3 separate regions of the Homo sapiens genome follow, and regions 1 and 2 are each linked to region 3. Evidence: fine-mapped expression QTL. A gene starts in region 3. Each other region holds a variant in brackets. All regions are shown on one strand. Distances are between the middles of the regions. Region 1 overlaps UPK1B (uroplakin 1B). Region 2 has its middle 17 kb from the start of B4GALT4-AS1. Region 3 holds the start of B4GALT4 (beta-1,4-galactosyltransferase 4).

Evidence for each region. PIP is the estimated chance that this variant, and not a neighbour inherited with it, causes the effect. A credible set is the group of variants that fine-mapping cannot tell apart.
Region 1: its variant is the best candidate, but not a certain one, in a credible set for the expression of B4GALT4 in monocytes (BLUEPRINT, PIP 0.59).
Region 2: its variant is the best candidate, but not a certain one, in a credible set for the expression of B4GALT4 in T cells (TOPMed, PIP 0.84).

Annotation. Positions count from the first base shown.
Region 1 is chr3:119,200,354-119,204,490 of GRCh38, forward strand. UPK1B (uroplakin 1B) reads left to right here. Exons shown (of 8, transcript NM_006952.4): 8 at 3,564-4,137. The coding sequence ends at 3,614. Among named protein-coding and RNA genes, the nearest start is that of B4GALT4-AS1, 24 kb to the right of the region's middle. The variant G/T (reference allele first, on the strand shown) is at 2,377.
Region 2 is chr3:119,207,260-119,211,396 of GRCh38, forward strand. No RefSeq gene overlaps it. Among named protein-coding and RNA genes, the nearest start is that of B4GALT4-AS1, 17 kb to the right of the region's middle. RefSeq lists an enhancer at 1-139. The variant T/C (reference allele first, on the strand shown) is at 2,619.
Region 3 is chr3:119,238,552-119,242,688 of GRCh38, forward strand. It overlaps B4GALT4 (beta-1,4-galactosyltransferase 4), which reads right to left and starts at 2,327. Exons shown (of 8, transcript NM_003778.4): 1 at 2,299-2,327. All of the region lies in intron 3 of B4GALT4-AS1 (B4GALT4 antisense RNA 1), which reads left to right. RefSeq lists silencers at 2,014-2,493, 3,144-3,193.

The DNA.
Region 1 (4,137 bases), 38 kb before region 3:
CAAGTAGTAGCTTCTTAAAGATCAGTTGCAATTTGGAATCTGAAATTCTGTTAATGAGCTTTTCATACTCTGTTATGTTAAAATATATTACATTGGTTTGTCTTGCACTTTGCATATATCTTTCAGCCATTTATAATTCTATAACATCATAGATTGCTTATTTGGAAAAAATATTAGTTCATTGTGTTATGCAGATCTTCCAAATGTTAACTGATTTATGTATGCAATATCCAGAAAATCACATGTGGCATTGATATTGCCACATGGAAAATACCTTAAGCAATGGAATGCTATCAAGTTCACGGTGACAACTACAAGTTTTCCAAGGTTCTGATTTTTGCTTGAAAGTTCAAATTTATCATTGGCAATGAATATTGTCAGTTGTTTTCCTTGAAGTGACAGACTCACTTTGTAAATTTTCAAGAAAATATCTGCCACATGTCCAAGTCCAAACAACCATAGCGTGTCTGTTCATCATTTTTTAAAGTAAAAGTGGTGTTTCCTTTTAATCATGCAAGTGCTTTTAAGACAACCATATTACACTATGCAACAGACTGTTTTATGAATGAATACTTCCTTTCTGTCATGCAGAATATTTAAAAAGATGTGTACTCAAAGGCCAAAATGTAATAAAATTAGTAGTTCTTACTGCTTCATTGAGGACAATCTCAAGTGAAACTGGCTTTTTAAATTTTTTTTTTTTACTGCAAGTGCGTAGCAGTGAAGACACAATGATCACTAACAAAGTTTAGTGACTCTGCCTTGATTCTTGCTAATACTCCAGGAGTTTTACTTCCCACTGCATTTACACCATCAGTGCAAATATGAAAACAGTGAAAAAGGCAAATAAATTCTCATTGTTATTCAGATAGCCTTACATAATGGACTTCTGAACTGTCCCTCAGGTGTTTACTATGTGTATTAGTCCATTTTCATAGTGCTATGAAGAAATACCCAAAACTGCATAATTTATAAAGCAAAAGAGGTTTAATAGACTTACAGTTCCACATGGCTGGGGAGGACTCACAATCATGGCAGAAGGCGAAGTAGGAGCAAAGGCATGTCTTACATGACGGCAGGCAACACAGCGTGTGCAGGGGAACTGCCCTTTATAAAGCCATCAGATCTCATGAGACTTATTCCCTATCACGAGAACGGCACAGAAAAAAACCCGGTCGCATGATTCAATTATTTCCCATCGAGTCCCTCCCATGACATGTGGGGATTATAGGAGCTACAATTCAAGATGAGATTTGAGTGGGGACACAGCTAAACCATATCACTATGCTTTAAGAAATGCTAGCTTAGGGGGTGATAAACTGAGTGAGGCAGGAAGGAGAGGGAAATCAACTCCTTCAAGGGGTCTTTTATGATCCCTCAACCCAACCTGTTAGGAGCTCTCACAACATCCTGAGCACACCTCTATGATGGAACTTCTCCATGATGATGTATTTGACTGCAAAAAGCTGAGAACTAGCTGTTCTTTGTACCCCCAGTGCCAAGCATAGCATGTAGTAAGGGCTCAAGCATTTGTTGAATGAATGAAAGGTAACAGTGAAGTTTCTATTTGTGCCATATTAGCAGGAACTGTGGGATAATGTTTAAAGGCTTTGAGTATCTTAGAACTCCAAACCAGTTGTAACCCTTGATTTTCCACAAGTATCAAATAAACTCTAGATCTAGTTAATTCCCTCTTGAAATTCAAAAGAGGGAAGGGAAGGGAAGGGAATTAAATGATTAAATGTATTGAGGGCCTGCTATAAACAAGGTACCATGTCAAATATTTTTAATATTAAATCCCCACAACAGTAGCTAAGCAGGTAGCCAGTGTCCTGTCTTACAAGGAGCAGAGAAATTCAGTGGGGCTCTCAAGAATTGTGCTTAATAAGAGCTCTTAAGCATGCCCATTTCACTGTTGCTTGCAAGGGGCTTTTTCTTAGTGATTAACTAGATAAGCTCTGAAGCTGACTGCTTGGGTTTGAATCCCACCTCCACCACCTACTAGTTCTATGACCTTGGGTAAGTTACTTCTCTGTGCCTCCGTTTCTCCATAGGGTTTTGGAAGCATTAACTTCAGTTATATGGGTAACACTTAGAATAGTGAGTGATGCATAATAAGGTATTCTAATAAACATTAGACCCTGTTATTATTTCATTATCTCATTCACTGCTCTAGCTTGGGGTAGGTAGAGATGTTATATTTATTTTATAAATGTAGAAACTGAAGCTCAGGAAATTTAAGTGACTTGGCTAAAGTTACCCAGGAGTAAGTACCAGATCTAAAACAGAGCCCAAATAAACTAAAATAAAACTCAGCCCTTGCCTAAGTCAGATATCTTGAGTTCTGTGGCATTCTTCAGAGGCAGCCATTCCAGG[G/T]CACAAGCATTTTAGGAAAAAATAGAAGTTCCCTGGGAGAAGTTTAATACTAGAAGCAAGGAATGCTTACCCCGAAATGGTACATACTAGAAACAGGAAGGCATTGGAGGATAAGTGGCCTTGATGGCAAAAAGAGTTTAGCACAGACGAGAAGGGCAACCCCAGAAGACAAGGAATCTAGGATGAGAACTGGGATCAGAACGTGGGGAACACAGAAGTTGCTTCTGAGTGGCAGGTAATAAGTGATGCTTTGGAGCAGGATGGATTTGGTGTCACATCTGGCCCAGTGATGTTGCTTATAACGAGATTACTCTTAAAAATCTGATATCTAGGCCAGGCGTGGTGGCTCACGCCTGTAATCCCAGCACTTTGGGAGGCCGAGACGGGCAAATCACGAGGTCAGGAGATCGAGACCATCCTGGCTAACACGGTGAAACCCCGTCTCTACTAAAAATACAAAAATTAGCCGGGCATGGTGGCGCGTGCCTGTAGTCCCAGCTACACAGGAGGCTGAGGCAGGAGAATGGCGTGAACCCGGGAGGCGGAGCTTGCAGTGAGTCAAGATCGCGCCACTGCACTCCAGCCTGGGCGACAGAGCGAAACTCCGTCTCAAAAAAAAAAAAAAAAAAAAAAAAAAAATCTGATATCTAACAAAGACATGGAACCAACCCAAATGCCCATCAGCAATAGACTGGATAAAGAAAATGTGGTCCATGCACACTATGGAATACTATGCAGCCATAAAAAGGAATGAGATCATGTTTTTGCAGGGACATGGATGAAGCTGGAAGTCATCATCCTCAGCAAACTAACACAGGAACAGGAAGCCAGACACTGCATGTTCCCTCTCATAAGTGGGAGTTGAACAATGAGAACACATGGACAAAGGGAGGGGAACAACACACACCAGGGCCTGCTGAGGGGTGAGGAGTGAGGAGAAGGGAACTTAGAGGATGGGTCAACAGGTGCAGCAAACCACCATGGCACACGTACATCTGTGTAACAAACCTGCACGTTCTGTACATGTATCCTGTTTTTGTTTTGGTTTTTTAGAAGAAATAAAAACAAACAAACAAAAAAATCTGTTGTCACCTAAGCCTGAATGAACCTAACATCCACTTTTTCCAAGAATGAGATGTTTCTAAAACAATCCCTTGTTTATTTTTCCTTGTTTTTTTCTATTCCAGTTTTGGGTTCTCCTGGGTACCATGTTCTACTGGAGCAGAATTGAATATTAAGCATAAAGTGTTGCCACCATACCTCCTTCCCCGAGTGACTCTGGATTTGGTGCTGGAACCAGCTCTCTCCTAATATTCCACGTTTGTGCCCCACACTAACGTGTGTGTCTTACATTGCCAAGTCAGATGGTACGGACTTCCTTTAGGATCTCAGGCTTCTGCAGTTCTCATGACTCCTACTTTTCATCCTAGTCTAGCATTCTGCAACATTTATATAGACTGTTGAAAGGAGAATTTGAAAAATGCATAATAACTACTTCCATCCCTGCTTATTTTTAATTTGGGAAAATAAATACATTCGAAGGAACCTGTGTTATCACAGTAACCCAGAGCTGTATTTGGCTAGCAATCTGCCTGTATCTCTCACTATTATCTAAAAGAAACCTTCCAATGCTTCTGTTGATCTCAGTATTGTCAGGGGAACAGAGAAGTTGGGAAAAGATTACTGAAATATACCTTTTGCATTTCTTTCTAGAGTAGCTCCCATATATGGAGATGGGTGATTCTCTTGATGCCACCTTCA
Region 2 (4,137 bases), 31 kb before region 3:
AGAAGATCAGATATTTTCTGGCTACCCATAAAAGGAATACTAGTCATGTGAACTTGAAAATCTAACCTCCTCTCAATCTCACACCCCCACCCCAACCAATCTGACAACCTGTGTTGTGGTTGAGGAATTAGAAACTAAGCTGGTTTCTCATTTCTATTGATGGAACAATTTCCTTTCTCCTTCTGGGTCTAGTATTTCCTCTAGTGTCTCTTCCAGATCCTTCTCAGCCTGTATAAGTGAGACTGAATCAAAGAAGAACCCCAAAGAAGGGTAGCTATAGACTACTGAGTTTGCTATTGTATTATAAGGCTCAAGTGGCCAGATCCCGTAAAGGGATCCAGAAACATTGTAGAGAAAGGCAGCCTTGCCGAGAAACAGAGATCCCATACACTTCTCCAACCAACCCTTCCCCCAGCACACGCCCCCACTCCACATTGTTAAGACACAAATAGTCAAATCCTGGAGTTTGGAGAAATGGTACTGTCATGCCCTACTTTCTAGTGGTTTCTACCCTGAGTTCCTCTTGAAAAAGAACTACAGAGCAACAGATGCTGGTGAGGCACTCACAACTAGGCTCAACTATTCTCCTGTTAGACATAAACAATCTCACAGAATACCAGCCTCATAGGGTCACTCTGAGACCATGACAAAACGAGGCAAGCCAAGGCCACTGCATAATTTTGTCTATGCATAGACAAAAACAAGGTCACTGTGCCACCCACAAAAAACCAAACACCTGCTTTCTTGGCTAAAATTAGTGACTGCTATGTCTTCCCAATTACAGCTTTATTCTCTTGCTAGTCTCCCTCCCTACAAATAAAACTTATTGAAATAAACAACCATGGACTTGCCCCTGCTTTCTGATAATATCCAACAGAGCAAACCCTTTCTTGGACCCTCCCCAAATGACCCAACCAAAGCCCAAATGCTGTAATAATTCTAACTTCCTTCTACTGAGTTGCTTCATGGATCCCCCATGGTGTGTTCTCACTCACTGCAACGATTGCAACTAGTCACAATCCCAATTTTTTTCAAAATAGAGCTCTTGAATTTATTCCTCCAACTGAAATTTTGTACCCTTTGATCAACTCTAACCCAATTAATTTATCTGCAATGTGTTCCTGGGGGGTTTTGGCTGAAGAGCATTGACACTCTCCAAGTTAGTCTTCCAATCCTTATTTCCTCTAGGAAATAGGATGTATTTATTCCTTCCTGGTGTAGGTGTATTTATTTATCCATCACCATGAAGTGGTTAAGAACATGAACTCTGGAGTCAAAGTACTTGGCTCCAAATCCCAGCTCTTTGACAAGTCACTTAGCTTCTTGGAGCCTGCTTCAGAAAAACTGGTCTCTCCTCACACAGGACTGGGAGGATTCAGTAAGATACGTACAGTGTGCATCGGTCTATAAGAGATGCCAATCAGGAGGTTATATCAAGGAAACTGATACAGAGCAAGCACTTAGTTTATTATTATGTCCCACCCTTCACCAACCTCTGCTCCAAGCCCCCACATCTCTCTCTCATTCTCTCTCTCTCTCTCTCACACACACACACACACACACACACACTCACACTCCACACATGGGCACACAAGGTTTGATAATTTTATTTAAATCTTAACAATTATCAATGGAACAATGGAGGCTTTACCTGTACAGGTGTACTTCCTAGGGGTGGAACCTCTAAACCACTCCCTTGTGTATACTTTTAGAATGATCAGGCCCTCTCAGCAGGTATAAGATGGTTATGCATATACAAAAAAATCAACGAAGGTAGAAATAGCATAAAATATCGAAGGCACTAAGGATAGAGGGTTTTTTTTTTAAGTTATAGAATGTGATTGGTGAAAAAGAACTTATGAAATGTACCTGAATATGCTTCATCTTGCAGAACATGTTAATGGTTTTTGGTAGGGACTGCATATATGAATAGGATTGGGGAAAGTGAATTTCAAGTCTGGGAGAAAATGTCTTTTATCTCACTCAAGTCCATTCACAGAGCATTTTGGGGCTCCCAGGAAATCTATCCATTGGGGCTTGAGTGGAAGTGATGGGGGTAAGGGCAGAAAAATTACAGATGGAGTTGGGGACAAAGTTCTGAGAGCAGCTGAGAACAGGAATGCACTTTCCAGGGTCCAGACAATACTAACTCTCTGTAGGAATTAAGACAATGACACACATTCAGGAAAATTACCACAAAGAAGTAGAGAAGCCAAGAAGAAGGCAATATGATGTAATGGTCTTGAAAGTCAAAGGGCCCGAGTTTTGCTCAGAATCTGCCATTTGCTGCCTGTGAGACTCCTGGCAAGGCACCCTCCTGGCTGAGACCTCTACTTACTCAACTTACTCAACTGCCCTCTTACCTCAAGAGTCAGAAGCATCGGCCAGGCACATTGGCTCACGCCTGTAGTCCCAGTACTTTGGGAGGAAGAGGCAGGCGGATCACCTGAGGTCAGGAATTCAAGACCAGCCTGGCCAATATGGTGAAACTCCGTCTCTACTAAAAACACAAAAATTAGCCGGGCATGGTGAGGCATGCTTGTAGTCCCAGCTACTTGGGAGGCTGAGGCAGGAGAATCACTTGAACCCAGGAGGTGGAGGTTGCAGTGAGCCGAGAT[T/C]GTGCCACTGCACTCCAGCCTGGGTGACAGAGTGAGACTCTGTCTCAAAAAAAAAAAAAAAAAAAAAAAGAGTAAGCGGCACCAATAAAGTGTGTGTAAAGATATCACAAACTGCAAAGCACTATAGAAATGAATGCCAGTATAGGTGAGGAAAAAAAATCAATGAAAACTTCAAAGTAACACACTCTTTGTGTTAGGTAGTTGTGATATCCAAATAGCCTGCCCCCACATAATCCTTAGCAATTATAGTAGGCATAGCTGTCTCTACAATATTTAAAACAGTAGGCCTCTTTGGCAACTATGAGAAAATGCACAGGGCAGGAACTGGAGGAAGCCAGTTCCTTTGAAGCCAAACCCCCTGCCCAGTGGGGAGGCAAGAGCAGGGAGGGAGGCAGCAGTGAGTGGGCAGGCGGCCTCATGCCCCGTGTCACCAGCCTTTGATGCCCCAGTGCAGGGAAAGTGTCACAATGGCAGTGTCAAGGTCTTAAAAAACTATCTTCCACCTCAAGAAGTTCCATAACAAGTCATTTAAGGGACTTTTAGATTATCTTGGTTGAAAGAATTACCTGAAGAAAAATAAAAGGCATCATTCAGTGGTTTCCAACAGTTAAAAAATTGCAGATGTCAAAAAAACACAAGAGAGTTTCTGCATGGTACTAGCTATACTCCATTTCCATTGAGTAAGAAATTGAGTTCTCAAATACAGATCTTCAAATTCCTTGCACACACCATTCTCTTCCATTGCCCTTCCCAACCATGATGAGGGAGGGACCTACAACCTCTCAATTACCGTCTGTTAATATGGTCATAGTCAAGCAAATTGGGAGAGAGCTCTAGACAAAGTTTCTACAGAAAAGAGAAGGGACAGTGAGGGAGAGATTTACTCAACAGACTACAGCCTCATTAGCAAATCTCCCAAGAATGAAGCTCCTTTACAAAGTTTGAGCAAAAAACATGAAAACCCTGAGTATTTCTCTGCTAAGTAAAGAAAAAAACATGGCCGGGCACTGTGGCTCACACCTATAATTCCAGCGCTTTGGGCACCCCAGGCAGGCAGATTGATTTTGAGCTCTAGAGTTCAAGACCAGCCTGGGCAACATGGTGAGACCCCATCTCTACTAAAAATACAAAAAAATAGCTGGGAATGGTGGTGTGCGCCTGTGGTCCCAGCTATTCAGGAGGCTGACGGGGGGAGGATTGTCACTTGAGCCTGGGGGGTGGAGGCTGCAGTTAGCCGAGACTGCACCTCCGCACTCCAGCCTGGGTGATAGAGCAAGACCCTGTCGCAAAAAGAAAAAAAAAAAAAAAAAGGAAAAGAAAAATAACCACTTTTGCTCTTTTGCTCCCTGTGCTGAGTTAAAAGCTAAACCAAGCTAGCCCTAGGTAAACGTTTCATGCCTATGAAGTGTATTGTCCTTTCAAATTCTCCTTCCCCACTTGGGTGGTGACAACTCCTGTTTTATCTTAGGAGCACCAAACTTCCTACTCCCTCTCTCCCTGCTTGGGAAGGATTAGATAT
Region 3 (4,137 bases):
AAGATATTTTGAGAAAGAGATGACATTCATATCTTTTATCACAGCATATTGTAACTGTTCTATTATTAGATATTATTCATCTCTTACTGTGCCTAACTTATAAGTTATACTTTAGTATAGATATGTATGCATATATAGAAAAAAACAGCGTATATAGGGTTTGGCACTATCCACGGTTTCAGGCATCCACTGTCAGTCTTGCAACATATCCCCCAAGAATAAGGAGGACGACTGTACATTAAAATTTAAAGATAACATCACAGACAGGAATTATAACTTTTAGTTACATAAGTTTGACAATTCATTCATATAACCTTTAAGAAAACCTGTTCTAAATAGGCCAAAAAGCCCCAATCTCAAAGAAAAACTTCAGAGGCTGTTAGTAATCTTCAGTGCCAGAGAACACTGTGGTCTGTGTTTGAAATGCCTATTCCCAGGCTCCAGCCCCAGAGATTTTTATTTCAAAGGCCTGAAGTGGAGTCAAGAAATTGATATTTTTGCCTGGGCCCATGGTACACATCTGTAATCCCAGCACTTTGGGAGGCAAATGGATCACTTGGGGTCAGGAGTTCCAGACCAGCCTGGACAACATGGTGAAACCCCATCACTACTAAAAATACAAAAATTAGCCGGGAGTAGTGGCCTGGGCCTGTAGTCCCAGCTACTCGGGAGGCTGAGGTAGGAGAATTGCTTGAACCTGAGAGGTGTAGGTTGCAGTGAGCCAAGATTGTGCCACTGCACTCCAGCCTGGGCCACAGAGCCAGATTCCATCTCAAAAAAAAAAAAAAAAATTATATTTTTATCGAGAACCTAGGTAACTCTGAGTCACACAGCCAGGTTTTAGAAACCACTGTTCACTGATGGCTTAAAACAAAGAATAGAAAACCATCACTGATTTGCTTTGGATGTTTCCACTGAATAAAAGATCTTCAAAGAGAAGGTTAGTTCCCAAAACATTTGCATGCATCTCTGGAAAAGGCAGGCATTACTATTAGCTCGGCTTAAAGTAGATACTAAATACTTATTATATTAAGTGGCATATAAACTACAACCACAGAGCTGATTTTATTGCCCTCTCTATCCACTTCCCCTTAGATTATGTAGTCAAACAGTTCAATCCAGGTCAGTACTTTTTCACAACGTATGTTTTCAATCTGATCAAAGCTATAGGTAGACGAAAGTTATTGCAATTTCATGGGGTTTACAATTTCCATAAAGAACAAACCTGCTCTAGAAGACAAAATTCCAAAAACTTCTGAACTATATCCAATCAAGCATTATCTCCTCTCCCAAGAGAGACCTTCCAGCACTCCCCGCCTGGGTCTCGGGAATAGCCCTCCCTTCTGAATCCCAGTTTCTCAATCCGGACCCTGAATCCTATTCATCCTGATCTCTCCTTGATTTTCTTGCATCTTAAAGGTGTTATTTTCCTTTCTTTAAAAATTTAAAAAAAAAAAAAAAAGCCACAACTCGCCTCCACGCTCAGATTACCATTTTCTTTTTCCTCCTTTTCATCACCAAACGGCTGAGGAGGTCTACCAGTACCCTCACCACCGCCACGTCCCCATCCCTCACCCACTCTGGAACACTTTGCAACAGTGTGCACACCCACCCACTGTTGATAACTACTCTCCTAAGGCTACCAACCCATAGGCCTCTCCTCGATGCAGAGTCCTTTGGACTTTGTCTGTTTTTTTTCAAACCAAGAATTAACAGCCCTTATCTAATGGAAGACAGAACATCAAGGGATACAGATCAACAAACACTGGATGGCTGTCTCCGAAGTCTTTTATAATCCAGGTGACCAACCCCTTTGGAGAAAGGTCAAAGGTCGCCGGCCCCTCGCAGGACTGGGGCTGGTGTCAGCTGATCAGTTTCCCCGTTGAAACGCTGGAGAAGGAGGGTTTCCAGGAAGAAGGGGCTTTTTCAGGTTGATGCACCCGGCGGAGAAGTGCTGGGGGCGACCCCGGAATCGTGACCTGGGGTATGAATGAGCCCTGGATTTTTTCCTACCCGGCAGCACCTCGTCTGGCTCCCCCGGCCCGCAGCAGAGGCGGCGCCGCGCGGAACGCCAGCACCTGAGCCGGTGCCTCCCGCCAGGCTCGGCCTCCGTAGGCCCCCGGCCCGGCCCACCGCTCCGGCTGAGGCGGGACTGCCCCACGGACGCCGCCACGTCATCCCCACGCCCGCCCCGCTACAGCCCTGGGACTGACCCCGGCCGTCGCCCGGCTACCCTCGCACGGCGCCCGTGTCCAGGGAACTGCATTTCCCGGGCGCCGGCGGAGCCAGCGTACTCACCCCGGAGGCGGCCGCGGCGAGCTAGCACTGCCCGCGGAGAGGGGAGAACGCGGAAAGCAGCTCGGGGACCGCCCCAGCCGCCCGGGAGGCGGCTCTTGAGTACGAGCTCCGCCTCCCGCCTTGGCCGGAGAGGCTGGTCCGCCCGGCTCTGCACGCGCCTGGCGCTCCACCCCCGCCAAATCGACCACACCGGGCGCTGGAAGGAGCACCGGGAGGGAAACGGAGGGTTGACGCCTCGGCCTCTGGGTGGCTTTAAAACCCTGTGCCAATAGTAGACTGGGTGCTGAGCGCTTCCCAAATTCCATCCCCTTAAATACTCACAAAGCAGTAGGAAAGAGATAGGGACCCTTCCATTTTACAGAGTGGGAAACTGAGACTTTAGAGAGGCTAATAAACTTAATCACCCTGCGAGATTTCAGCCCTCTCAACTGCAAAAATGATAATAATAATAATAATATTTTTCCCATGTTGCAGGTCTGAGAATATTAAATGATTTTTTTAAATCCGTATTTCTTCAAAGATATTATTACAGAAAGCAAAGACAATTATATTTACACTAAAGATTTGAGTGAAAAATTATGGTAGGCTCTGTTTAGGCAGTCAGGATAGCTAGATTCTCTAATGCAGTCTCCCACTGCACTCACGGGAAAGTAGTAGATTCTCCAAGAACCACACATCCACTCCACCCAAAAAGGAACAAACCATAGCTAGAGCCAGTGCTGGGCTCATTAAGCTTCATAGCAGGAAATCTGAGGCTATACTGAGGCCGCATAGGCCCAATGTAGGCCCTTGGAAGCTGGAAAAGAGGGCCACCTAGTGGCAGTTGAGGATAGGTCAGTGAAATAGGTCAACACTGCTCCTGAACAAGGTCCAGTGTGAAACTTATTTTTTTGTGTTCCCTTTGTAACATGCTGTAAGGGTGTATAACCACATTTAGTGAAAAAGGACATTACTGGATTTCATCCAGTGGCGTTATACAATCAGTTACTTATACCCACATAGTCCCCAGGTCTTGAGCATATGATGCCTGGAAGCATAATATATACCTTTTGCAAGAATCACTCAGCTTTTCCCCTCCCCCTCCCCCTCTCTGTCTCCCTCCCCATCTCCCTCCCCCCTTTGCACGGTCCTCGTCTCCCCTTTGCATGGTCTCCCTCTGATGCCGAGCCGAGGCTGGACTGTACTGCCGCCATCTCGGCTCACGGCAGCCTCCCTGCCTGATTCCCCTGCCTCAGCCTGCCGAGTGCCTGGGATTGCAGGCGCGCACCGCCACACCTGACTGGTTTTCGTATTTTTTGGTGGAGACGGGGTTTCGCCGAGTTGGCCGGGCTGGTCTCCAGCTCCTGACCGCGAGTGGTCTGCCAGCCTCGGCCTCCCGAGGTGCCGGGATTGCAGACGGAGTCTCGCTCACTCAGTGCTCAATGTTGCCCAGGCTGGAGTGCAGTGGCTTGATCTCGGATCGCTACAACCTCCACCTCCCAGCCGCCTGCCTTGGCCTCCCAAAGTGCCGAGATTGCAGCCTCTGCCCTGCTGCCACGCCGTATAGGAAGTGAGGAGCGTCTCTGCCTGGCCGCCCATCATCTGGGATGTGGGGAGCCCCTCTGCCCAGCCGCCCAGTCTGGAAAGTGAGGAGCGCTTCTTCCCGGCCGCCACCCCGTCTAGGAAGTGAGGAGCGTCTCTGCCTGGCCGCCCATCATCTGGGATGTGGGGAGCGCCTCTGCCCCACCACCCCGTCTGAGAGGTGAAGAATGCCTCTGCCCGGCGGCGACCCGTCTAGGAACTGAGGAGTGTCTCTGCCCCGCCGCCACCCCGTCTGGGAGGTGAGGAGCGTCTCTGACT